Linked DNA regions of Homo sapiens. The protein of the gene in region 2 purifies or fractionates together with the protein of the main gene of each other region. This does not show direct contact. Each region holds a gene or a part of one and is shown on either strand. Other genes may lie near its edges.

Region 1 (3,500 bases), on a different chromosome or scaffold from region 2:
TCGACCTCCTGGGTTCGAGGGATCCTCCCACCTCAGCCTCCCAGGTGCTAGGATTACAGGCATAAGCCACCATGCTCAACCCATATGCTATATTTATTAAGCCTCATATCTCAATAGAAATATGAGCTTTAGGCTGGGCGTGGTGGCTAACGCCTGTAATCCCAACACTTTGGGAGGCCAAGGAGGGTGGATCACCTGAGGTCAGGAGTTCAAGACCAGCCTGGCCAAAATGGTGAAACCCCATCTCTATTAAAAATACAAAATATTAGCTGGGTGTGGTGGTGGGCGCCTGTAATCTCAGCTACTTGGGAGGCTGAGGCAGAAGAACTGCTTGAACCAGAGAGGCAGAGGTTGCAGTAAGCCGAGATCATGCCACTGCACTCCAGCTGGGTGACAGAGTGAGACTGTCTCAAAACAAAAAAATATGAGCTTCAGATTGCCTGAAACTGCCTCAAATGTAGGTCAGGCGACTCAAATCCTCACTTTTAATGAAAAAAGTAGATCTCTTCCCTCATCCTTTCCAATTCCTCTCCCCTTGCCCATGTATATTCTAAACTATAGACTCTACAAATATTTTATTGACAATTCGTATTACTATATATATATATATATAAACACATATTGACAATACATATTACATAGAACCTCTGGTCCCACTGTTGATACCTTAGCCTAGGACTAGATACTTAACCCTTCATACCTGAAATATTAAACAGCGTAAGTGGTCATCTTTTTCTGTGGGCTCTCCCTTCTAAAATCTTAACAGCAGTGGGTCAGATGACTAAGTTTCTATAAAACAGGCTTTCTTCATGAATCACTTAGTTGCTAAGAAATGTTAAGTGTTTCCCAGTATTCGCAGAGTTGATACAAACTTGGCCTGGCACTCCTGGTCCTTGATAATCCGGGCCTGCTTGCCTCTCTAACCAACCCATCCATTGAGCCATGCTGAAATGCCAAATGCTACACTCATTCTGCATCCACAATAACCCTTGAGATGCCCCCCTGCCAGGCATGCATTTCCTGTTTCTCTCTCCCTACCGAAATCCTTCACAAGTCAAGAACTACTTCTTTTCCACATGTTCCACAAGCAGTCCATATTGCACCCTTCTTCCTCTGACCCCTGTTGTCTCTTGTACCCTTATCCCCTCTGGTATGAATTAAAACATTTTTGCTACTGACAGACTTGCCCTATCCCATCTATGTTCACTGTTCCACAAAAGAAATCTCTGTTCCTTTTCAATAGGAACAATTTCTTATTTCTTTGCCACCCTCAAAACACTTAGCTTGGTATGGTCATATATCAGTTAACAACACGGATACATTTTTTTTTCTGAGACAGAGTCTCTCTCTGTCACCCAGACTGGCGTGCAGTGGCGCGATCTCAGCTCACTGCAACCTCGGCCTCCCAGGTTCAAGTGATTCTCCTGCCTCAGTCTCCCAAGTAGCTGGGACTACAGGCGCGCATCACCACGCCCAGCTGACTTTTGTATTTTTTTAGTAGAGACGGGATTTCACCACGTTGGCCAGGATGGTCTCGATCTCCTGACCTCGTGATCTACCTGCCTCAGCTTCCCAAAGTGCTGGGATTACAGGTGTGAGCCACCGCGCCCGGCTAACAGGGGTACATTTTAAGAAATGTGCTGTTAGGAAATTTGATTGTTTTGTGGGCATCATAGAATATACTTATGCAAACCGAGATGGTATAGCCTACAACATACCTAAGCCATGTGGTATAGCTATTATACTCTTAAGGGACCCCCATCATAAATGCAGTTCCTCATTGACTGAGACACTGTCATGCATCACGACTGTATTGACTGCTAGTAAGAACTCACACACAAGTTGAAGACCATAATTTCATTCTTACCTTCAATCTCATCCCTTCTGCATGGGTATCTTTTTGCCTTTCAGATCCTGCTAAATCCACCAGGTTGAGTAGGGAGGTCCGTATATTCACAATCTCATTACTTTTCTCCATTGACTCTATTGTAATTGTAAAGACGGCATGAGACCTAGACGATTCTCTGTTCATTGATGTTGATGCCACACGTCTATTCCTCCATCCTCCAGACAACACCTATGCAAAAGGAAAACATATTAAAAGAAATGAGAGGACCAGTTACAGTGGCTTATGCCTGTAATCCTAGCAGTTTGGGAGGCCATGTCTGGAGGATCACTTGTGGATAGGAATTCAAGACCAGCCTGACCTACATAGTGTGAGACCTCACCTCTACAAAAAATAATAATTTGCTATGTACAGTGGCAGGAACCTGTAGTCCTAGCTACTCGGGAGGCTGAGGTGGGAAGATCTCTTGAGCCCAGGAATTCAAGGCTGCAGTGAGCCATGATTGTGCCACTGCACTCCAGCCTGAGCAGCAGGGCAAGATCCTATCTTAAAAAAAAAAAAAAAAGGAAAAGAGAAAAAAAAAGGAACAAGAATAGGTACACTTAAAATGTAAAATAAGCACTTGAGAATCACTCATTTTATTATGAAAAATACTAACATACAGCTAATTATCTACTTTCATAGGGAAAAAGAAATATATTTACATAAAGCATATTTTCTATTTAGAACAGGGGTGAGGAGTATCTATTGCCTTCCATTGTTATCTAGCTTTATAAGATAAATTATATTATCCCAAGTTCCAAATGGTACACAACAGCCACCAAAATCAGTAGGAAATTTGTAAAGGGTGGTGAGAAAGATTACTGGTCCATTAAGGAATAAGCTGAAGTTATTTTCCTTTCCTTTGTGTTCCCTTTCCACATTACAGAAACAGAACAAACAGGAAATCAGAGCGCATAGGATCTAGAACTGGTTTTGCCACGCTTTATTTGTGTTAACCTAATGTAAATCACAAAACCTCTCTGAACCCATTTCTTTACCTAGAAAATGAGAATGTTGGACAGGAAAAATCTGTAAATTATCTTTAAGCCCAAAGTTTTGTAAGCTTTTGGTCTACAAAGTATTTTTTCCCTTCTATTCCCTATGGCAAGCAGGATACATGAAAGTTCAGAATGCAGGCTCTGGAATCAGATGCATATGAGTTCAAACCATGGCTCCACTATTTACTAGGCGAGGTCTGGGGCCAGCTGAACCTTTTCAAGCCTCAGCCTTCATATTTGTAAAATGGGAATATGGGTACCTATCCCATAGAACAGAACATATAAGTTTTAGGTGCATATGAATCATCTACAGATGTTGTTAAAATTCAGATTCAGATTCAGTGTGAGGTGGGGCCTGAGATTTTGCATTTCTAACAAGCTCTCAGGTGATGCTGATGTTCTGAGGACCACATTTTGGGTAGGAGGGTAACAGTATATATAGGGTAAAATGGGGAAATTAGTGTCTTTATCTCAAAGGGCATATTGAAAATTAAGTAAAATAATGTATACAAAAGAAGTTAGCACAGTGCTTGGCACCTTCACTCAATAAATCATAGCTGTTGGCAGGGCACGGTGGCTCACGCCTGTAATTCCAGCACTTTGGGAGGCCCAGG
Region 2 (3,500 bases):
GAGTAGCTAGGACTACAGGTGCGCACCACCACACCTGGCTAATTTTTTGTATTTTTAATAGAGATGGAGGTTTCACCATGTTGGCCAGGCTGGTCTTGAACTCCTGCCCTCAAGTGATCTGCCCGCCTCGGCCTCCCAAAGTGTTGAGATTACAGGCGTGAGCCACTGTGCCCAGCCTCCTCCCCCCCTTCTCTGATAGCACTTTCCCAACAGGAAGTAACCACCTTTTGCTAATGTATGATATGGTCATTTTATGATTAAAGGCCTTTAAAGATTAATCTCTTTTGGTAGGTGAAGAGTCTTGCAGGAGGGTGAGCAGTCTTTCTGACAGTCATATGAGGAAGGAATCCTTTTCTCAGGGGCTGAGAAAAGGATGGGTCAAGATGTCTTAGGAAGGCACTCATGAATTGATGATGATATGTGACTTGTCAAATGGAAGCAGGCCAAAGGCTAGGAAGTAGGGAACTCTGGCAAATTCCTGTCTTTTCTTGGCATCAGAACCTACAAGCCCTGAAGGATATACTAGATTTGGTAGTGTTAGAACTCTTTAAACATTTTATCTAGATTCATTTTTTTGTTTTGTTTAATAAGATTTCTTTGATGTGTTCTGAGGGGAAAAAAGAAAATATCCTTAGGTCCCACCTCTTCTCCCCAGCTGGGCCTCAAGTGTTAGAGGGGTACAGGGATCTTGAGGTAGAGCCTGGTTGGAGTAGCCATTCTTGTAGAATTCCAAGGGGAAAGTGAAACATGGGGGACGGGGCCACAGTGGTTAGTGTTAACAGAGAAGATGTCATTTCCTTATTCATTGATTTCCAAGTCATGACTTGTCTGTTCTAAGCCTTAACTCCGGTTCTTGTTTGCATATCTTTTTTCCCTTTACTCAAGCCAGGCAATCTTTCTTGCCAGTTTTCTGCCTCTGTGCTATTTACCATTCATTGCTAAATGTTTGCTCTTTTCAACCTTGGTATTTCCTTTAAAGATACGCTTGTGTCCCACAAAGCTGAGCTCAAATTCTACCTCTACAAAACTCTGTGGACGCAGTGGTTTGAATTGTTAGCTTTTAAGAGAATACATTTCCAAGTGACATTTTAATGTGTGTATTGCTGTGTTTCTGACTTTTGCTGTGTTAGAAGAAGTTGACCAGGAAGTAGCTTGGGACTTTCTCCAGTGAAATGCAGTCATGCAGTCCTTTTCTCCAGTGAAATTTTATAAGAAATCCCAATATAAAAATAGATATTGATAGCATAAGAATAATATAAATTCATAACATACACACAAATTTATAACATTTACTTAACTAGGCCACTCTTTGTACAATAAGTTAAAATCTTTGTAAAAGTAAAAATTTTTTTAAAAAGTTTTTTGGTTTTGAATAAGAATAGTAGACTTAACAGCCAGTTTTTTTTCTAATATATTTTGTAGCTTTTTAAACTATGAAATATTTTCAGCATAAAATAGAAAATATGAACTCCCATTCCTGCCAGGCAATTATGTCAAGTGCTAATATTTTGATATACTTGATTCTTTTTTTTTAAGAAAGGAACATTCAAGATGCAGTGAAATACTTTAGTATTTTTAGCAGCTACCTGATCCCATTCTTCCTCCTTTCTCCGAGTTAAACACTCTATAAATAGATAGAAATTCTCTTTAATAGTATAATACTACACTTACAAATATACTATATATTGTTTGGATGTTTTTAAACTTCTTAAAAATGGTGTCTTTTTGTCATTCTGCAACTTTTGTCATCCAGCATTTCTTCTTTTTTGAGACGGAGTCTTGCTCTGTCGCCCAGGCTGGAGTGCAGTGGTGTAATCTCAGCTCACTGCAACCTCTGCTTCCCAGGTTCAAGCAATTCTTGTGCCTCAGCCTCCCGAGTAGCTGGGGTTACAGGTGCGCACCACCATGCTCGGCTAATTTTGCATTTTTTAGCAGAGATGGGATTTCGCCATGTTGGCCATGCCAGTTTCGAACTCCTGACCTTAGGTGATCTGCCTGCCTTGGCCTCCCAAAGTGCTGGGATTACAGGCGTGAGCCACCGTGCCTGGCCCATTCAGCATTTCTTCGTGAGAGTTATTCATGTTGATGTTTGTAGCTCTAGGTTATAAATTTTAATGGCTGCGTGATACTATACTACTATATGAATATGCATTATCTGTTGTCCTATTGACGAACATGACTTTGTTTTCAATTTCTTGCACCTACAGACAGCTCTGTATTGAAAGTTTTTATCTATGTTTTCTTGTGTTTATGGGTGCAAGATTCTTTTTTTTTTTTTTTTGAGACGGAGTCTTGCCCTGTCACCCAGGCTGGAGTGCAGTGGCGCGATCTCAGCTCGCTGCAACCTCCATCTCCCAGGTTCAAATGATTTTCCTGCCTCAGCCTCCCAAGTAGCTGGGATTACAGACGCCTGCTACCATGCCCAGGTAATTTTTTTTTGTATTTTTAGTAGAGACGGGGTTTCACATGTTGGCCAGGCTGGTCTCGAACTCCTGACCTCGTGATCCGCCCGTCTTGGCCTCCCAAAGTGCTGGGATTACAGATATGAGCCACTGTGCCCAGTGGAGTGCAAAATTCTTAAAGGTTGTCGTCTTGAAGGGGAATTCTTCAGTAGAAGTGTAGCTCTTGGCCTGGTGTGGTGGCTCATGCCTGTAATCCCAGCACTTTGGGAGGCTGAGGTGGACAAATCTTCTGAGGTCAGGAGTTTGAGACCAGCCTGGCCAACATGATGAAACGTGTCTCTACTGAAAATACAAAACTTAGCTGAGTGTGGTGGTGAATGCCTGTCATCTCAGCTACTCGGGAGGCTGAGGTAGAAGAATCACTTGAACCTGGGAGGCGGAGATTGTGCCACTGCACTCCAGCTGGGGCAACAGAGTGAGACTCCATCTCAAAAAAAAAAAAAAAGTGTAGCTCTTGCAAAGTTGCCCTTCCAAGTGTTTGTTGATTTCCCTCCTGTCAGCAGTGAAATTCCTGTTGTTCCACATCCTCACTAATGCTGAGCATTGTCAGATTTTCTAATTTATGCCTATCTGATGAATATGAAGTAAGACATTGTTTTCATTTCATTTTCTATTTCTACTTCATTGCCAGTGAAGATGAGCATTTTTTCATATGTTTCTTCATCATTCTGTTTTCTTTTTCTATAAATTGCCTGCTCATTACTTTTATTATTCTGTTGGGTTACTTTTTAAAAATTGATGGCAGGGTGCAGTGACTCACACCTGCAATCCAAACACTTGGTGGATTGCTTGATCTCAGGAGTTCGAGATCAGTCAGGGCAACATGATGAAACCCCATCTCTACAAAAAATACAAAAATTAGCTGAGCATGGTGGCGCGCACCTGTAGTCCGAGCTACTCGGGAGATGGAGGTGGGAGGATGGCTTGAGCTAGGGAGGTTGAGGCTGCAGTGAGCCATGATTGCATCACTGCACTCCAGCCTGGGTGACAGAGCCAGATCCTGTCTCCCGAACAAAACAAAAAAACGAAACCAAAAAC

Evidence for each region.
Region 1: the proteins of STAM2 (region 2) and KIF15 fractionate together in Homo sapiens (co-fractionation; one large-scale study listed by BioGRID). This does not show direct contact.

Annotation. Positions count from the first base shown.
Region 1 is NC_000003.12:44,792,794-44,796,293, reverse strand, and holds part of KIF15 (kinesin-like protein KIF15), read right to left. Parts: intron 2,078-3,500; coding exon 1,868-2,077; intron 1-1,867. UniProt on the Homo sapiens protein: Plus-end directed kinesin-like motor enzyme involved in mitotic spindle assembly.
Region 2 is NC_000002.12:152,169,264-152,172,763, reverse strand, and holds part of STAM2 (signal transducing adapter molecule 2), read left to right. Parts: intron 1-3,500.